Linked DNA regions of Homo sapiens. The protein of the gene in region 3 interacts with the protein of the main gene of each other region in a biochemical or structural test. Each region holds a gene or a part of one and is shown on either strand. Other genes may lie near its edges.

Region 1 (4,692 bases), on a different chromosome or scaffold from region 3:
TCACTCTCTGCCATTGTTTAGCAGTCTGACCTTAGACAGCTCACTTCACCACAACTGCAGGCCTCCGTTCCCTTATATGTATAAATGAGGAGGTTGTCTAGGGTCCTTTCCAGCTGCAAACCTCTGTGTTTTGGGGAGTTCTGTTAGCAACATTCTTGGACTTGCTCTCTACGAGAAAAGCTAGAAGTCGATTATTAAAATGGAGTCCACAGGAAGCCTGCAGGGCTTTAAGACAGCCTTCTAAAGAGTTTAGAAACACTCACCAGCCTGCAGATGACTTACTCCCACTACTTATTACAAAGTATCATGGCAAGTAAGAAAGAAATGGTCAGCCACTGGGAGAGCAGGCTGAGGTTGCAAGGAAGTGGCAGGTGCTATCGTTGGGATCTTGGGGGAGCATTGTAGAAAGGTCAGCTTTGGAACCAGGCACTGAAAAACGGGTGAAATTTCAACAGGAGAGGCAGTGCACATGGGTTGTGATTTGAGCAGCAGTGAGTAGTGAATGGGGTTGGAGCAAGAGGCCTGTGAGCCCAGTCATCACATGGAAAAGGGAGGTGAGGGCCAGAGTGCAGAGAACCCCTCTCACTTTCCTGTGGGTCTCTCCTCTTCTTTTTTTTTTTTTTTTTTTTTGAATTGGAGTCTTGCTCTGTCGCCCAGGCTGGAGTGCAGTGGCGTGATGTTGGCTCACTGTAAGCTCCGCCTCCCGGGTTCACACCATTCTCCTGCCTCAGCCTCCCGAGTAGCTGGGACTACAGGCTGCCACCGTGCCCTGCTAATTTTTGTATTTTTTTTTAGACGGGGTTTCACCTTGTTAGCCAGGATGGTCTCGATCTCCTGACCTCGTGATCCACCCACCTCGGCCTCCCAAAGTGCTGGGATTACAGGCATAAGCCACCGTACCCGGCCTTTCTCCTCTTCTTTAAACTGCATTTAGGTTGTCCTCATCTATAAGATGAAGGAATAAGATTAGATGGCCTCTTTATATGGCTTATCTACTTCTAATAAACTTTGGTTCCATATTCCAGCCACCACCCATAAAGACTCTTACTTTTTCCTCCTCAATCCATCAGCATCAGCCAGCATTCTCCCTCTCAGTTCATCCTGGTCATTACCTCACTAATCTGTACCTTGACTCTTATTCTACCTGGGACCTCCCCTCACTAACCATACTTGATTTATTTCCTTAAGAGCGGATATCCTGTGTATTCTTAGCTTACAGTGGCTGAGCTTTTGGGAGGTTTAACAAATTGTTTTTCAATAGACTCTCAGTCCTAAATGATTTTATTGCAGCTGTATTATTCTTTTTGAGGGGAGTAGAGAATGTAATCCTAGTTGTATGCCATATTTTTTGTATTGTTCAAGTTGCATTTTGTTGGGCCTGTAATATTGAAGAAAATGTCACTTGTATGCAGAATAGGAGGGAGATTCCTTATGCTGTAGAGGAACCATTTTCCTAGGATAGTACAATTCCTTAGAGTCATCTCTAAGGGTGAGCAGCAAAGCTAGAATCCCTCTCTTGGCTTTGACCTTGAAGGAGTCAGTTTTCCCAAAGACTAGTTCCCATGGAAAGAAGATGGTCTCCTTATCACAGCAGCAAGAGGAGGCAGTATGAGCAGAGTGCCTCACTGTTGTTGACCTCTAGGGACAAGTGAGCCGGCAGTATTTCAGACAAGCTGGGAAAGAGGCTGTCTGTGAGTCCTGGGAGCGAGTGAGCACTGGCAGGCTCAGACATAGGTGCTGGTTAGCAGGACTGCTTTTCTGTTTCTTGTGTCGGCTTTGTTTATTTCCTCTCTATTTTCCCCCTGGACTTAGTAAAGTCTTTCCGAAAATACCAAAGGTGAACCAGGGGAAGAGTTTTTATTTTCCATGTTTGGACAGAACTTTAAAGAGGAAATGATGTACCCCCCTGGGAGCCAGTGAGGTGGCAGCGATGGTGATTAAGGAGTGAATATCTCAAGGAGGTGGACGAATTCGGGGATCACTAGCTCAGCTGCCCCTCTCCACCTGGAGCATCTCCTTCCAGTGCTACCCTCAGAACATCTGGGCTTTGCTCTAGTGAGGGAGAGACTAGCAATGAAGGTGTCTTGAGATCAGCACTGTAATTCCACCAGGACGCCACCGGAGTCCGGTGTTAAGCTTCTACTATGGCAACAGAATGAGAGCGTGGATGGGTTGAAATGCCATTTCAACAAGGAAATAGTAGAATTAGAAGAAGCATAAGCACTAAAAGGAACATTTTGTAGCAGAAATGTTAAAAATCTAAAGGAGGCAAGTGAATCAACAATGACTCTTCTATTCTGGGCAAGTCCAGCCCATTTATGTAAGGTGGTTATTCTGCATCTCTGTCTTCTGCAAGTAGTGCTGTGGCAGAGCTGCGTTTTGTGGAGAGCGTCCCCGGGGATGGAGCAGATCAGTTGGTGATGCGTATGTATCAGAAAGCTCGGCAGAGCACCCTGGAACGTAGGCCCTCTCGCGGAGTGGGTAGTGGCCCTACATGTTCATTTCCAAGGGCAGGAGAATAGACCGTTCCAGCTGCGGCCTGGCCAGGGATGACCCCACATCTGACACTGCAATATGGGGGCAACTGAACCAGTCCTCAGCCTCAGTGTGTTCCAGGGGCTGCAGCTGGGGAGCAGTCGAACTCTTTCTTGAGACAATTACAAGGCCACCGCTGCTGCTGCTGAAGGGAAGTTACTCCATGTTTACAATTCTCAGGTTTGAAGTTTTCATGCTTTGCCAAGGTAGAGTGAACCATGCGTCTTTGCAGGCTCAAGGGATGTTTAAAGAAGCGGTAGGACATCGTCCACCCACAAGCAGAGACCGCAGGATAAAGCAGACATCCAATGTAAATACAACCCGTGCAAAAAGCAGAGTCGGCAGACCTGGAGTGCATTCGCAGTATCTCCCGGGGGTGGGGGAAAGAAATCACCTCTTCAGAATGTCCAGAGGGGAGTTGCCTTGCTTACCTGGGGGGCGGTACCCTCTCTCGTGCCCTCACAGGGCTACTCAGCCTCAGGTAGCTGGTGCCAGAATAACACAGACTCAGCTGCCAGAGCCTGCTCTTAACACCTGTGTTTCCTTTTCAGATCTTACAGGTGAACAAGGTGATGTCCATCTTGTTTTATGTGATATTTCTCGCTTATCTCCGTGGCATCCAAGGTAACAACATGGATCAAAGGAGTTTGCCAGAAGACTCGCTCAATTCCCTCATTATTAAGCTGATCCAGGCAGATATTTTGAAAAACAAGCTCTCCAAGCAGATGGTGGACGTTAAGGAAAATTACCAGAGCACCCTGCCCAAAGCTGAGGCTCCCCGAGAGCCGGAGCGGGGAGGGCCCGCCAAGTCAGCATTCCAGCCGGTGATTGCAATGGACACCGAACTGCTGCGACAACAGAGACGCTACAACTCACCGCGGGTCCTGCTGAGCGACAGCACCCCCTTGGAGCCCCCGCCCTTGTATCTCATGGAGGATTACGTGGGCAGCCCCGTGGTGGCGAACAGAACATCACGGCGGAAACGGTACGCGGAGCATAAGAGTCACCGAGGGGAGTACTCGGTATGTGACAGTGAGAGTCTGTGGGTGACCGACAAGTCATCGGCCATCGACATTCGGGGACACCAGGTCACGGTGCTGGGGGAGATCAAAACGGGCAACTCTCCCGTCAAACAATATTTTTATGAAACGCGATGTAAGGAAGCCAGGCCGGTCAAAAACGGTTGCAGGGGTATTGATGATAAACACTGGAACTCTCAGTGCAAAACATCCCAAACCTACGTCCGAGCACTGACTTCAGAGAACAATAAACTCGTGGGCTGGCGGTGGATACGGATAGACACGTCCTGTGTGTGTGCCTTGTCGAGAAAAATCGGAAGAACATGAATTGGCATCTCTCCCCATATATAAATTATTACTTTAAATTATATGATATGCATGTAGCATATAAATGTTTATATTGTTTTTATATATTATAAGTTGACCTTTATTTATTAAACTTCAGCAACCCTACAGTATATAAGCTTTTTTCTCAATAAAATCAGTGTGCTTGCCTTCCCTCAGGCCTCTCCCATCTGTTAAAACTTGTTTTGTGATCCGGCTCTCAGGAGTCACTCTGTAAAATCTGTGTACACCAGTATTTTGCATTCAGTATTGTCAAGGCCATGACTGTTGTTTTAGTAAACTTGTTAAAATCAGATGATGTCAGAGTTGTGTATAAACACAGTTATATCCCTCTTCTGGTACATTTAATGTTGGGTTAATGAATTAAAAGAACTGTTATGGCCTGCACTTACTTAAAATGATACCCTGTAGCTCTGGCCAGCAAGTTCTATATCAAATTCTCTGCTGTTAGTTTGGCAAATTAGAATTATGATTTGCTCCAGTGTTATGGTCCTGGAACAATAACAACGACCCTGGCAATTTTAGTTTTGGAAGTTTCTTTGCAGCACATTTGTTGTTTTGGGGTTTGGGGTTGTTTAAGGGTTGAATTTTTTTGTTTTGGCTTTGGTTTTTGTTTTGCTTTTTGCAAGTGGTTTCATCTTTTTAGGCACATAGGAATTTTTTAAAACTATTTGTAACAAAATAATTGCATGACTACCCAGAAGCAAACTGAAATGGATCATGAATCATCTATACATAGAGGATAAATTTATTTATGGCCGACTCTCAGCCTGTGACCACCCCTCCTCATCTG
Region 2 (7,114 bases), on a different chromosome or scaffold from region 3:
TATTCACAGAGGAGAAGCCAGCAGCCCAGAGGGAGGACCTGCTCAGTCACCCACCCAAACCCAGTGCTCATTCCTGGAAGTGAGTTGTCCTAGCAGGGTCCCTCCAAGGGACGTCCCCCACTCCCACTTACAAGCCACAGGCCGTCCTGGCTGCCTGCTGCCCAGCACTTCACTGCCGTTGGCACCCACACACCAGCAGGAGCGGCCGTCGTTCTGGCACTGGACAGTCCTGAGGAGGAGACACAGACCAGGTGACCCTGGGATGGGCCCCCAAAGCCACATGCCGGCTCCCACTCAGGCTACTTTTCTTCTTCATTTCCATTCTTGCAAGTTTTGGTTCGTTTAAATTAGGGAGAGAGTGGAGTGGAGAAGGGTGGCTGACCTGGGAAAGGAAAGGCCCCACTTTTCCTGCCTGGCTAGCACCTGCTCTGCCTCCTGCCCCAGCCATTCATTCACCACCTGTCCAGCCTGCCAGCCCCAAAACAAGTGACCCACCCTGGAGTGCAGGGCTTCAGCCACATCCACCAAGTGTCCTCAGGCATTATGAGGCTGCAGAGGGTAAAGGCAGTGCCCACATTGTATGGATAGGGAGTGGGGGCTTGGGGGTGGGATGTTAGTGGGATCAGGGGCCAGCAGGGTATATTGGGAAGCACATGGGTGGGGTCAGGCCAGGCCATAGAGTTGACTCCCCAGAAATGATGACTGAACTGAGACCTGCAGGATGGTCAGAGGTATAAGAAGGTAAAAGATATTCCAGGTAAAGGGAACAGCATATGCAAAGCCTCCTGAAGAGAGGCCAGGTTTGAAACTGCAAGAGGCCAGAACAAGAGAGTTGGGAATGGGAATATAAATAAGGCTGGTGAAAGTGAGACTTCCTCCTTAACTCCTTCCTTGCTGTTCCAGAATTCCCAGTGATCTAAGCAGGGACTGCTCTAGCAGCATCTCTGCACACTCGTGGGAGGTTAGGCACATTAAGAGTGTACATAAGATAGCAGCAGGGAGGGAGGTTTCACAGACATTTCCCAGAACGCAGTTATATAAATGGAGTTCCCCTGATTCAACATGACTGGAATAGCACAAGGAAATTTCAATGCATGCACATTGCAAAGGATTCCTGTCTATTCTGCAGGGAAGAATTGTCTAGATTATTACCACACTCTCCACAGAGAGGGTCTCAGGCCCCAAGTCTGCATTAGGGCAGCTGGAGAAACCCCTTTCAGAGAGCAGCTCAATGTGGAGACAGCGACCCAGAAGCCCAGAGGCAGCCTAGAGAGCTAGTCCGGGCAGGGTCGGTGGCAGCTAAGGACTAGGAAGTCAAGGCAGCCTCTGCTTCCACCACCCCAGCTTCTCAAGAGGATACTTGGAGGAGGGAGAGGTCCCAAAGCACAGATCATTTGACACTCTCCTCAACCTGCCCCACTCCCCACACGTGCCGTTTATTCAAGCCATCACAGAAAAAGTGATGGCAAGAAGAGAAGGGAGGGCAGTGGGAGGATGAAGCATGGATTGGGGTTCACTTGGTCAGATTGTCCAGTGTTGAACAGCTTGGGGAACTGAAAGGCAGGCACCTCCAAATGACAGTGGAACTGAAAGGCAGGCACCTCCAAATGACAGTGGCCAAGCCTCACATGCACAAAGGAGTTGCAGGGCAGAGCTCAGGAAGAGGGGGGAAGGCACAAGATGCTTTTTATGGCATCTTGGACCTTGAGAGTTCGCTGCTGACATAAGCCTTACTGGAAGCTGCCATCCTCTGCACACTGGGGCACGTAGTCTGCTTGCTTCAGAAAGGCCGTTTCCCTCTGCAGCTCACAGGGACGAAGGGGCTGGGCATCCACCTGGTACTCTAGGAAAAGAAAAGTGGTTCATCAAAGAAGAGTGTGGACTGGGCTGCCAGGACAGAGACGGGCTCTCATAAGCACAGATGCTTTTCCAGGGTCATCATCATTACCTATGACAGCCTATTTTAAAATTTGGCAGCTAAGCACACTTTCTTACAAGTATGACATTAGCTCATTTAATGTGCAACATTCTCCTAAGAGGTGACAGGCAATATATCCTTGTCACTCATGAGGCACCAAGTCTCAGGCAGCGAAAGTCGTCTGCCCAAAGTCACGTAACTGGCAAGTGAAGGATCCCAAAATCAACGCTGGGACTACACGTTCCCCGCCCGCCCCCACCCTGCCGCAATTCCCATGAGGCTATTTGGAGTAAGTTAGAGAACCGTAAGGAAGTTCTTCTTGAATCTATCAAGCCATGCCCTGCAGATGTAACATGTTCCAGATAAACATTGAAATACCAATTAATTAATAATGTACATGACTTATTTTTCCATTGAGAACTCTTGTAACACATAGGGTCCTACCCAGAAATCACAACCGCATCATGAGGTGTGTGTTATTTGTTTACTTTTTAAATGAAAAAAAAAAAAAAAAAACAGAAGCTTGGCACTTTGCCCGAAGTCATATGGGTAAGTGGCTGAGCCAAAGACAGAACTTAGGGCTATTTCACTTCATAGGTAGATTTCTTTTTCTACTGCTTCTAAAATACCTGTTATGGATGACACAGACTTTGGAATAGCTAAGGGGATAAAAACCCAAGGTCAATGCCAAAAGTTTGCCAAAATGGTGGGGTGAGGAGGACCTAGAATTGAATTAGGAAGATCAACCACATTTCCCATTTCTGCTCCATCAATCACTAGCTCTGTGACCTCAAGTAATTCAGTTCGGCTCTCTAAATCTGCCTCTTCATCTGAAAAAAAAAAAGCAAATCACTGACATGTGGGAATTTGTGAAGATTAAATTAGATCGCACCTGTTCGAAGGCCCAGGGCAGAGCCTGGCTGACACTGGAGCTCCCTCCCCACCGCCTGGCTCCATGGCCTCAGAACTTACCGAAGATATTGGCCGACACCCAGCAGATGGAGGCCAGCAGGGTGAAGATCTCCAGGACCAGGGCCATTTTCCTGGCCCTTCCTGGGAGGAAGGAGGAGAAACCACTGCTTGCCCTAGGTCCCCTGGCCAGGGAGCTTTTATAGAGCTGCCGTTGGCACTTTCCTTCCCACCCCCAGGTCCTCAGTGAGGCAGTGCCCCATCCTGTTTTCTCTGCTGGTCAAAAGGAGCTCCCTCCACCTGTGTCTACTCCTCCTGAGGGCACTCGTGTGGCCAGTGGAGCATGAGGATCTTGTCTAAACTGTGGGGGAACAGAACGGGGTGGGGTGACTTCAAAATCCTTTTTTATGGGTAAAGACCAAAGCTCTGTATCTTTGGAGGGAACAGGCTCAAGCCCACAGTGAGGGAAAAGCAATCCTTTGTTCTTTCCTTCCCCACCCTACCCTTTCTCCTTCTCCTTCCTCCTTCCTTCTTTCCTTTCTTCCTTTCTTTCTTCTTTCCTTCCTTTCTCCCTTCTATCCTTCTTTCCTTTCATTCTTCCTTCTTTCTTTCCTTCCTTCCCTCTTTCTTTTCTTTCTTCCTTCTTTCCTTCCTTCCTTCTTTTCTTTCTTCTATTCTTTCTCTAACAACCTCTTAGAGCTCCACAGTAGCAGGCACCTAATCTAGACAATGAGGATATGGCAGAGAACAAAACAGGCAAAATCGTGCCCTCATTAATATAGACTGTGAAAACTTTGGTGAGGGAAGCAAAATACACACACACTCATATTCATATTTCTATTACTTTCCTCTCTTTCCTAGGACCTCAGACTTTGTCAACCAAAAGATAGCAGGAACTGTGTATTCCACAGAAAGCCTGTATGTCCATTTGGTTTCTCCTGGCAAACATGGCTTCCTTCCTTCAGTCCTGTTCCTGTGAGACCTGGAAAAACTCACCTCATCTCCCTGAGCCCCAGCCTCCTTCTCTGGAAAGCAAAGTTAAAAGGAGAATAATAATATGTCCCTATTTGTTAAGGTAGTTGTAAGAGAATAGACATTGAAGAGCACATGCTTATTAGACACTAGCAGTTATTATTATTATTATTGATTTTCTTATTTTGCAAAAGCATCATGCCAGGGAATGGCAAGTATTCAGAAGACCAATCCAGCCAGGTAAGGAGCTAGTGACAGATAGGGTCAGGAACTGGCAGGTAATGAGGGCAGGTTGCTGAGCCTGGCACCTGAGGAGAGATGGAGGGACCTGTGAGAATCTGGAGGATATGGTCCCGGGTAGAGTGAAGGGCAGGAGGACAAGCTGGAAAGTGGAAGAGACTCCAAACCCTGGGGAAAATAAAGGGGCCGATATAGCTGCCGTGCCGTAGACTGTACTACCTTCCACAAATAGGGTTGCTATGAATATTAAATGTGTTAAAATATGCAAAGTGCTTAAAACAGTATTTGACACATAATAAGTATCCAGTGTTAGCTACTGTACTAGTCTGCTATGGGTGTCATCACAAACTATCACAGACTGGGTGGCTTAAGTAACAGAAATTTATTTTCTCATAGTTCTGAAGGCTGGAAATCCAAGATCAAAGTGTCAGCACTGTTGGTTTCTTTGGAGACTCCTCTCCTGGGCTTGCAGATGGCCATCTCCTCCCTGTATCCTCACTTGGTCTTCCCTGTGTGTGTTTGTGTCTTAATATTTATTTCTTTTAAGTACACCAGTCATATTGGATTAGAGCCCATCCTTGTGACCTCATTGTGCACTTAATTACCTCTTTAAAGACCCTACCTTCAAATGCGGTCACATTCTGAGGTCCTGGTTTTAGGACTTCAGCATATGGATTTGGGGGGAGAACACAATTCAGTCCATAACAGCTACTGTCATCATTGTTGGGTTCCTGATATAAACTAGAGAAAGTAAAACACAACAGTCATTTGAAGTGTCAGGGTATGGGATTAAAAACAGGGGAGAACCCGTGCTCTGCCCGTCCTTCTTGGGGACCACACATGCCTGGAACTCCCACATCTCTCTCTAGCTCAGTCTCCAGCCAGACTTTTTTGAGCTCAGATCCACTCTGCCTGGACACCCTACAGGTATTTCAAATTCAACATATCCCAACCTGAACTCCTCAACCTTTCTCCTGACATCACCCCATTGGCTGTCTCTGTGATAGTAAATCCGAGCCCCATCCTAGGCTTCTCCCCTCAAGTCTTACCAGCCTCCAGGTCCTACCAGGCTGCTGCTCATTTCTACTTCCTTGGTCCTCCCCTCCTCTGCATCCTCACTCTTCCTGCCTCCGTCACATCCCTACAGCTCAGAACGAGCCAGCCAGAACAGCCTGCTGTACTGCTCCTCACCAGGGCTTCCCCACCAGCTGCAGGAACAGTCCTCTAAAATATGGCCATCCATGTCACTTTGTAGATTCTACAAAAAGAGTGTTTGGATCCTGGTGAATCAAAACACTGTTTCCATTCTGTGATATTAAACAGCACATCACAAGGCTGTTTTCACGGGTGGGGATGGAGACTCAGCCAACAGATGCTCAGGAGGTGCCGTGGCAGGAAGATCAATTCACCCTGGGGAGTGGGAGGACAACTTGGATTAAGACCTAGATGTTAGGTAAAGGTGAGCTGGGGAGTGTATTGGCATTTACTGGAAAAGGCAATACAAGAGGAAGAACTCACCTGCCTGACTCCCTGCTACCTCATTACATAGGCCAAGTTCACCCCAGGCTATGGAGAGCTGGCAGCATCCTTCTCTCTACAGCAATATAATAAGCACAGCATTGTGCAGCCCCTGGTCATTTCTCCATTTCTACATGTTCTAAAGCAGAAAAGTCTTAGAAAAAATTGAATGTGGTTAAAGATTTACCATAAACCTCACTCACCACTCTTCCCATTGCCCTAAAATGCATGCATAAAGCTTGCACAGGTTGGCCTGTGTGCTGAATCATTCTTGCTGGCCTGGCCCCTGAGAAGCAACCCACAGACCCATGCCAGAAGTGTCTCTGCTTCACTGGGTTTGGTGCTTTAGGAACTCTGGGCTCAGGGTTCATGAAGCAGGCCAAGATATCACTGGAATGAGGAGTACTATGAGAGAGGAATGGCAGGTCTGTGAGCTGACTCCACGTCAGACCCCACCTGGAGAAGCAGCAAGGTGTTAGGAGCCTGTGGGGGAGCACCCAGTAGTCCGAAATGCAGAGGCCGCCTTCAAAATCCATGCAAAGAGCTTCCCTCCATACGCAATAGCAGAGGTGCTTCTCTCCACTCAAGCAACAAAGCAGAAAGCTTCAAGAGAATCGAGGCAATGTGTCACTTCCACCACCATGAAACCCTCTTTCTCATAATGACTCAGCTACTGGTCCCTACTTTTACCTCTTCTCCACTGAGCTCTGAGAACAAACAGGCTTCCACAGCGACTCCACATGGCAATGTCCTAATCTTTCTTCACCAACTTGCTCCTTGCTCAGGCCTCCATCACTCTGGCAGGCTCTTCATCGCTGGCCCTGCCACCTCTCCCACTCTTCTTGGCCCAAAATACAACTGCACAACCTTCTCTTTCATCTCCTTCATTTTTTAATACTAAGGTGCTTTATATAATAGGTGCTTACTGAAAATTTAGGGGGAGATGGACAGTAATAGCAATATAGAGGAGGAAATGGCTTCAAATGGATCATCAGACACCACTGTTTCTGACATCCATCCATCAGCTGTCATGCACCACAGGAAATTGCTTCCCAGTCATCTCTCCTTTAGTCCAGCCTGCCACCATATTGCTGGATCCCTGCTACCACTTATGGACAGCTTCTCCCCATCCTCCAAATACCTAGGGACACAAAGCCACAACCCGTCTTCTCCTAGGTTCCTAGGGCAATAATAAACATTTCTGGTTCTTGATTTCTCATCCCAGAAAGACAGAGTGAAAAATACACTTTTCCCTGTACCTCTTACTAAGTATAGCTAAAACCATGAATATTATACATAAAACAAACATAAGAAGGCACTGAAAGTTAGAGAGAAAAAGACTGGCTATCAACCTCAGGATCAGAGGGACAAGATATATGGTAGGAGTTTCCTGGATTTTATTCGGCCTCCTATGTCTCAGATGAGATGTTGGAGGAGCTGGATACTCAGAAATGCCAGGGAGCACAGACAAAACAAGCCCCCAGAAAAGCCTCTTGAGCCAAAGTTCCAGGAAAGGGCGGCAGACTGGTAAGACAGAAAACTTTTAGATAACAACCT
Region 3 (8,776 bases):
GAGCTGAAATCATGCCACTGTACTCCATCCAGCCAGGACAACAGTGAGACTCAGTCTCAAAAAATAAATAAATAAAAATAAATAACTTTAAGTTATTTCAACCTATTTACTAGCCAGGCACAGGGATATGTGCCTGTAGTCCTAGCTACTGCAGAGGCTGAGGCAGGAGGATCACTTGAGCCCAGGAATTCAAGGTTACAACAAACCATGATTACACCCCTGCACTCCAGTCTGGGTGACACAGTAAAGACCATGTCTCTTAAATTTTTAAATTTTGTTTAAAATTTAAAATTTTGTTTTAAAACAAAACAAAAACTATTTAACCATATATGCTTGAAGCTATTATAACCAGATGACCAGGTATCTGATTACTGTTTTCTGATTATTAATCTGATTATTTTCTTCTCTATCTCCCATAGCTTCAAGAAAGGCATTTTGGGCTGGGCGCGGTGGCTCACGCCTGCAATCCCAACACTTTGGGGCCGAGGTGGGTGGATCACGAGGTCAGGAGTTTAAGACCAGCCTGGCCAAGATGGTGAAACCCCATCTCTACTAAAAATACAAAAATTAGCCGGGTGTGGTGGCGGGCACCTGTAATCCCAGCTACTTGGGGGGCTGAGGCAGAGAACTGCTTGAGCCCCAGAGGCGGAGGTTGCAGTGAGCCGAGATAGTGCCACTGCACTCCAGCCTGGGCAACAGAGCGAGACCCTGTCTCAAAAAAAAAAGAAAAAGAAAGAAAGGCATTTTGAATAGATGATCTCTGCCTAAACCTATCTCCCACCCTCCTCTTTTTTCATCCTGAGTCCAGTGATACAAGTAGTACATTTTTTTTTCCTTTTAGATATGGGACCTCACTATGTTGCCCAGGCTGGCGTACAGTGGTTATTCACAGATGCGATCACAGTGTCCTATAGCTTTGAACTCCTGGGCTCAAGCTATCCTCCTGCCTCAGCCTTCCAAATAGCTGGAACTCTAGATGTGCACCACTACCTACCCCTAATAAATTTTTTTGTATTTTTGGAAGACAGTATCTCGCTCTGTTGCCCAGACTGGAATGCAGCGGCGCAATCATAGCTCACGACAGCCTCAAAACTCCTGGGCTCAAGTGATCCCCTCACCTCAGACTCTTGTGTGGCTAGGGCTACCGGCATATGCTACCATACCAGGCTAATTAAAAAAATTTTTTTATACAGATGGGGTCTCACTATGTTGCCCAGGCTGGTTTCAAACTCATGGGCTCAAGTGATTCTCTTGCCTCAGACTCCAAAAATCTTGGGATTATAGGTGTGAGTCACCCTGCTTAGCCAGGGCTAATATGTCTTAATCCAGATGCAGTTCTTGTGAGTACCTATAATAATTCTCTAGAAATATTAGAGATATGAAAAAAATTAAGCACATGTACAAATATTTAAGCATCTAACTGGTAATGTGTCAGAAGCTTTGTAATGAAAATCATTACAAGAAATCCTCAACAAAAGAATATACACTAAATCCTGTACTATCTTCACAATGACCCTAAGAGGTAGTATTAGTACTCCCATTTCATAGATGAAAAATCTAAGGTTCAGAGAGGTTAATTTGTCCATGGTCACCACTGAAGTTTGAATCCAGATCTAATACCTGAGATCCTGTTCCCCCAAACTACTGCCTCAAACCATCATCAATTATATTAACAAAAGTTTGACATAATCACAAAGGCTTAAAAAAAGAAGAAAACCACTACATACACGTCTTACATTTCTGCCAATCTTGACTCACTTTAATTCTTGCCACCCCCACCCAAGCCTGTCATCCAACTCTGCCAAGTGATAAACCAAACGCATTTATGCCTCATCCGTCTGCTTTAATACACATGCTCCTCAGGGTTTGGCTCAAGGGCTGTATCTATCAGGATCACCTGGCTGACAAGCAGGCCCTGTGGGGGCTGTGACACATCAGCAGGTTTATTAAGGAATTATACAAATCATACTCATACGGTACTTCAAGGTTTCAAAATATTTTCACATATATCTTCCCTTCAAAACTTCATGATAATCCTCCATTTTATGTGACGGGAAACTGAGGCCTAGAAAGGCTAGTTGAGCTCTGTTGAGGGTACTATGACCTTGAGAAAAAGAGTAGAATTCACAACTATATTACTTATAACTGGGATCTCATAACTTTGCCTTATCCCTAAAGCAAATGCATTGATTTCAACACTCCTATGAAACACTTCCAAATGCAGCACCATGTTGGGACATCTGTGTTCTACTCCCAGCTCTTGGCCAGTAAGCAAGTCAGCCAGCCGCATCAGCAAAAGGGCTCTGACCAGCTAATCGGCCCAATAATCCATGATTCAAACCATTAAGCACATTATCAGCAAGAGTTCAACCTTATCCTTGTTCACAAATGTTCAGAAAAATCTGTTCATAGGCATCACTGTCTTACAGCTCCTGGCTTCCTCATGCCTTGGCTCACATTCTTCTTCAACCAGGTCCAGAAGTTTAGGAGTGCTTTTTGGAAACGTTAGCACTTCAAGTATAAAGGATGGTCTGCCTCACCTTCTGTTCTGCTTTCCTCTGGGACCTTCACATCCAAGACCAAAGCAATGGCCGGCCTCTGAAAGGGGAACTCTTCTTGGCTCCCCATTTCTACCTCTGGTTCCTCCAGCTCTAGCCTCATGTCTAGCACTATCTGTTAAAACTCTCTCTTTCACAAGTAAGTCCTTTTGCCAAACTCACTACCCACGCCCCTCCTCTCTTTCCATCCCCCACAAAAGAGCTATCTTTTTTTTAACTTCCCTATATGTTTTCCTGGAAACCTTAGTCATACTCCCCATCAACTACCTCACCCTAAAATAAAGTTTCTGTTGACCATCCCTTGAACATATCTTGGATTTTCCTACTTCCTTCGTGCCGTTACAGATCTCCCTAAAAATCACCTCCACTTTGATTCTCTCTTCAGCCAGAGGGCTTTCCCAGAACACTGCACTGCAGTGGTCAAGCCTTCTTCCAAACTCCCAGTGAAACATCTCTGAACACCTAAATCCTTAAGATAGCCCCAGTGCTTTGCTTTGTTTATGCACAGGTCTGGACTCCACTCAGTACATGGCAGGCAGCTCAGTAAGTGTCTAAATGAATGACATCTATATAGTACTTTACCTTTAACAAAACACGTTGATAAAACTTCTCATTTGACCCTCCAAACAATCCTAAGAGCTGCTGCTCTAGTTTAAAAAACAACTGTAAAGACCACTGAAGTTAAGTGATTTTCCATAATCACACAGCTATGAAGCAGCAGAGCCAGGACCCAAATCTGGGTATTGAGACATCTCTTTGAGATTTTGTATACAACATATTTATGTTTTGAATCCTTTGTGACAAATAGCAAATACTAGATAAAAATGATTTGAACTAACTTGTCTGGGAATTATTGAAGTTAATACAAATTTTCCTTCCCAGTTCAATTTCTCCTGGTCCTTCAGAGCAATTGTACTGTGGAACCAGACTTGCAAACTGGCTTCAGTACAATATTAGAAAGTGTGTGTGTGTGTGTGTATGTGTGTGTGTGTGTGTGTGTGTGTGTGCGCGCGCGCGTTTTAGGACATACAGGAAGACTAAAATGCTTATCCAAAGCAAACATAAGACGGATAGTATTCATAAGCCAGAGAAGGAACATACATACGTTTTCTTCTGATAAAAATAAATCAAGCCAATTAATCACATATAAGTTTCTACATGTGAATATATTTATGGTAAGCTGACCATCTATTTTCAAACACACAGGCAGCCAGGATGAAGAAAAAAAGCCCCAGTTTTGGCAGAGTACTATAGGAAAGGGAAAAAGAAAAATGAATTTACTGCTATCTGTTGGGTTTGCTTTTGGACTATTCAAGCTAGTAGCTTTTATTAGCATTAGATTTTTCAGCCAACAAGGAACAAACGGTAAAATATTACCCCCAAAATAAAAGAGAAAAATGTCTTTCATAACTACATGAAAAAAAGTACTCCTGCTATCTTTAAGAACATGCATATTTCACTGAAGCAAGTTCTGGAGGTGGTAGTAAAACACCCCTAAATGTGAAATCCATGCTATGTTCAAGTTTGACTGGGAAGTCAAACAGCCACAGTTTGCTTCTAAATTTGGAATCAGCCAGGAAAACATTTGTGATCACAACCTCTGGCCTCTCCCATATGAATCATAGAATTTTTGAAAGAAATTTTAAAGCTAGTCCAAAACTTCTTGTGCTGTAGATGAGGAATCGAGGGCCAGAGACTAAAACACAAAACAGAAAATAAGTTACATTCACAGAAAACTTCCTCGGCAAAACACGACAGGTTCTGAGTGGAAGGATTTTGTTTTTACTGTGGTTTCCTGAGATTGAGATTGGGGATAGAGAAGGAAAAACAGCCTCCATCTTTCACCTAAAAATTTTCATAGGTATGAGGAATCTGTCATGAACATTCATTCAACCAAACTATCTCAAAGCAACATATTACTAACCCAACTTTGACTGCAGTCACCATTGAAACAAGAACAAAAAAGCTGCCTAGAACTGACTGAAATTGATCAGCTTGTTCTTCAAGCCCCATTAATCCTCAAATCCACCTGCATACAAATCACTGAGACCACATAGTGGGAAGAACAAGTTTTCACCAAGTTTTTAAAAATAGAAGTAAAAGATGCAATAAAAACACTGATGACAAAAGGAGAGAAAGGGAACTGAAACTTGTAGAAATCTACAAATGCAGTATCTAGTTCATAATATTGTCAGAGCCATTGCCACAGTTTTGTTGTTTCTAGAAAAGCTGTATTTTAAATTACATGTCAAATGTGATGGCTTTGTCTGCCTTAATATTAGCTCCTAATTATATAAAATATCTGAGCCTCATTTCTGCAGCCTCAAAACATAGTTCACTTTCTGTAAAAAAAATTGAGGGGTAGGATTAGGTAGGAAGGAGGGAGAAGAACAAACGTTACTCCCCCGTCCTGACCATTACAACTTGGTGCTAAGCACTGCCCAGCATGTGATGGTCACACAAGGGTAACAGGCCAACTGGGACAAAGTTGGGGAACGCAGACTCTGCAGTCACCCACTGAGAACCCAATGCCTGTTGACGAGAGTTGACTGGAAACTGGCAGAGTGCAGAAGAAACTGCTAATAGTATCTGTGACCCTGACATGAAAGATCTGATCAAAACAGCAGGATAGAAAGCCTATTATTGTTGTTAATAATCACAAAAAGAAAATAGCCATTAGAAATTGAACAGAACATAAGCCTTCTTCCAATTATTTCCACAAGCAGACATGAGACTCAGATTTCTAATTAAAAATCACTGTGCACAGAGCCAAACATTTGAGTCAGCAGAGAACTTACCTAATTGTTAACACTGCATTCCCTTGGAGCCATCTGTCATACCTGGCTAGCTTTCTACTCTCATCCCAACCAAACTTCAGATGAAGACTAACCTTTCCCCAGATAAATTACACTTCATCAAATCTGCTGATACTTCTTACTGAAATATCCAATGCATAAGTCATTTTAACATCCCTCTAGGGGCTAAAGGTCTGACTATACATTGCATGAGAGAAGACTCTTCATGAAGGTTTCGCTCACTCTGCTCAACCAGGACCAAGAAGGAGATCCTACAGAGTTCCTACTCCTTGATCCAAAGCTGAATGGAAGAAACAGAACTCAAGAGACTATTAAATAAGCTAGACGGCTGGGGGTGCTAGGGAAGGTAGGATGAAGAGAGGCCAAGTATTGGAAGAAATGAGGCAGTTAGGAAGTTCCGGGGCATTAAAGGACTGACCTTCAGACTTCCGGGTGTTACAAAGGTCTGGCGATTCACAACAACAGGCCGAGGTCTTCAGCGGCAGCTCCCTGAAGCCTCTGACAGGCACACTCAGTCCTGTCAGCTTGGACTCAACCCTGCCAGAGCCAGCAAACAAACACACGCATTCTTCCCAGAGCTGACACCCCATACAACACGGCCTCTCTACAGGGCCTGTTTATTTAAGGAACCAGATGCTTTAAAGTTGGAGTAGAAGTTGGGAAGTTATGTTTACAGAAGTAGTTAGTGACAGGAGCAGAGGGAGGACAGAAAATAAGCAAGAGTTCCTGGCTTTATTCATCATAAGTTTAAAAAGTTTTAAGGAAATTGTCAAATGGTCTGTACACAGGAATGAGAAGTAAGGAAATTATGTCAGCCACCACCACAACTCTGGCCAAGGCATTTCATCTGTTCCTTTAAGACAGTTTCATGCCTACCCTCAAAGGGGTGCTTACAGCAGAAATGTTTTGAAGCAATCCAACTTAGTAACCAACAATAAAGTCTTCTAGGCCTGCTCAATTTCACGCATGTACAAAGGTTATACATGTCATGAATACTCCAAGCAGCTGAAGGAAAGAATCAGTTAAAAATGTGGCATGAAAACAGTTTTGAGTTCCAGGCAAAAGGAAGATTATTGAGTCTAAGAAGAGAGCATTTATAAATGATAGCTAATTGCTGAGTGCTAATTATGTGCCAGACATTCTTCTAATGAGTTATTACATATGTATAGATTATACAACACAATGTGATATGTTGTAATACATACTATAACTCATTACAAATACAATATTACATATGCATATATTATGTAATACAAATATATATTTATACAATAATATACATATACGTATATATTATGTATATATAATTTAACACACACTCATTTAATTCTCACAACCACCCTACAAATTAAGTGCTCTTATCTTCACTTTACAGATTAGGAACTGAGACACAGAAAACTTAAGTAACTCACCCAGGATCACACAGTGACATGGCCAGGGTTCAAATGCAGGCAGTCCAGATAAGGCAGTGCTATACCACCTTACCATGGTAAGTCAAACCCTTAGAACAAAATTAGGGAGCATAATTTTTGGAAAGTTATAACTATTTATCTTTCTCCTTCGTTTTCTTGTCATCCCTTTTGTTTGTTTTTTTAGTAATAGCCAGTATTTTTTATTTCCACTTTCCCATGAGTCTATTATAGCTAACTTGTAATACTGTAACTAGAAAGGAAAATGTTTTCCTCTCCTGCCTCAACTCCTAAAATAAAGCACTTAATCATTAGGACTTCTATGTGAAAAAATATATGCTGTGTGTAATAAACCCAATGCACTTTAAATATATTTTAAATTAATAGATTGAAAAGAAATGATATGAGAAAAAAAACCTTAGAGAGAAAAAGGGAGGCTTGGGCAAAGAGAAAAACCTGCTGGATTTCATGGACAGAGAAGCCTGAGTGGTCATCAGGACACCGGTCTCCTTAAACCGTAATATAAACGCACTATTATGCTTTAGCTTTACCGTGCTTTCTTGAGAAGACAGGTTAAATGCTAATATATCCTCATAAGCCACAGACACAGGTCTAGTAGTTTGCTATAACCTTCTGAGGCTTTTCATTCTCCAGTCTGAATGATCTTTTCTTTGTATCTTGGCACCCCAGCATCTAGCACAGATCTAGGCATTTGGAGGGCATTCACATACATTGATGATGTGAATTAATGTGGCTTGAAATGAAACAGGACCAAGTTAAAAGAAATAAGAGAACCATGAACTTTTGCTTTTTCTTGGGACTCGAATCCTGTCATGTTATGTAGGAAAAATGATTCTACATGTACCTTCCTTCCCCAGTTGTACAAAGTACAATATCTCTGATAAAAAGTTGTTCTGTCATGCTGATGCTTTTATTTCACACTGTTTTATAAACGGTCCAAAAATACTAGATCTCTTCAATACAGTTCAGGATTTTTTATGACTTCTAAAACCAAATAAATAAACAGAAGAACAGGCTACTACATAACAATTCTTGGTTAAGAAGTACTACTTAACCATTTTTAAGGTAAATGATATTAAACAAAGGCTCCACTTTTTTTTTTTTTAACCAGATACAGAAAGGATGAGATCTCTGAAGAAGAGACCACGGATGACTAACAAACGCAAAAACTTTTTTTTTTTTTTTTTTTTTTTTTTTTTTGAGATAGAGTCTCACTCTGTCACCCAGGCTGGAGTACAACGGTGCGATCTCGGCTCGCTGCAACCTCTGCCTCCTGGGTTCAAGTGATCGTCATGCCTCAGCCTCCAGAATAACTGGAATTACAGGCGCATGCCACCGCGTCTGGCTAACTTTTGTATTTTTAGTAGAGACAGGGTTTCACCATGTTGGCCAGGCTAGTCTTGAACTTCTGACCTCAAGTGATCCACCTGCCTTGGCCTCCCACATTGATAAGATTACAGGCATGAGCCACCGTGCCCAGCCAAAATAGCTATTTTAAATAAGGTCACTGAAAAAAAGACTGGGAGAGAAAAACTAAAAAAAAATTATTGCAAACAGCTAAATGAAAGAAATAGAAGAAAATTTCTTTACATGTGGACTTCAAAGAATGAGTGGTTTTAGGTCTACTCTTCCACAGATTTGGCCTTAGAACCCCTGAGCCAGTTTTTTCAACCTCTTTCTTTGGAATCAATATATTACAAATGACACATCAATTCAAACTAACCAGGAAGACTCTGACTCAAGGAATAAATCCAGGCAGGGCATAGTGGCTCACGCCTCTAATCTCAGCACTGTGGCAGGCTAAGGTGGGTGGAGCACTTGAGCCCAGGAGTTCAAGACCAGCCTGGGGAACATGGCAAAACCCTGTTTCTTAAAAAAAGAAAGAAAGAAAGAAAAGAACAATTAGCTGGGTGCATGTACCAGTAGTCCCGGCTACTTGGGAGGCTGAGGTGAGAGGATCACTTGAGCCCAG

The links. The genes of interacting proteins can lie anywhere in the genome.
Region 1: the proteins of SORT1 (region 3) and NTF3 form a complex in vitro, tested with the Homo sapiens proteins (one study listed by BioGRID).
Region 2: the proteins of SORT1 (region 3) and TG interact in a biophysical measurement, tested with the Homo sapiens proteins (one study listed by IntAct).

Annotation. Positions count from the first base shown.
Region 1 is NC_000012.12:5,491,108-5,495,799, forward strand, and holds the end of NTF3 (neurotrophin-3 isoform 1 preproprotein), read left to right. Parts: intron 1-3,024; exon of another isoform or gene 3,025-3,086; coding exon 3,087-3,881; 3' UTR 3,882-4,192; downstream 4,193-4,692. UniProt on the Homo sapiens protein: Seems to promote the survival of visceral and proprioceptive sensory neurons.
Region 2 is NC_000008.11:132,862,844-132,869,957, reverse strand, and holds the start of TG (thyroglobulin precursor), read right to left. Parts: upstream 3,001-7,114; 5' UTR 2,958-3,000; coding exon 2,891-2,957; intron 1,844-2,890; coding exon 1,735-1,843; intron 230-1,734; coding exon 132-229; intron 1-131. UniProt on the Homo sapiens protein: Acts as a substrate for the production of iodinated thyroid hormones thyroxine (T4) and triiodothyronine (T3).
Region 3 is NC_000001.11:109,387,235-109,396,010, forward strand, and holds part of SORT1 (sortilin isoform 1 preproprotein), read right to left. Parts: intron 5,902-8,776; exon of another isoform or gene 5,793-5,901; intron 1-5,792.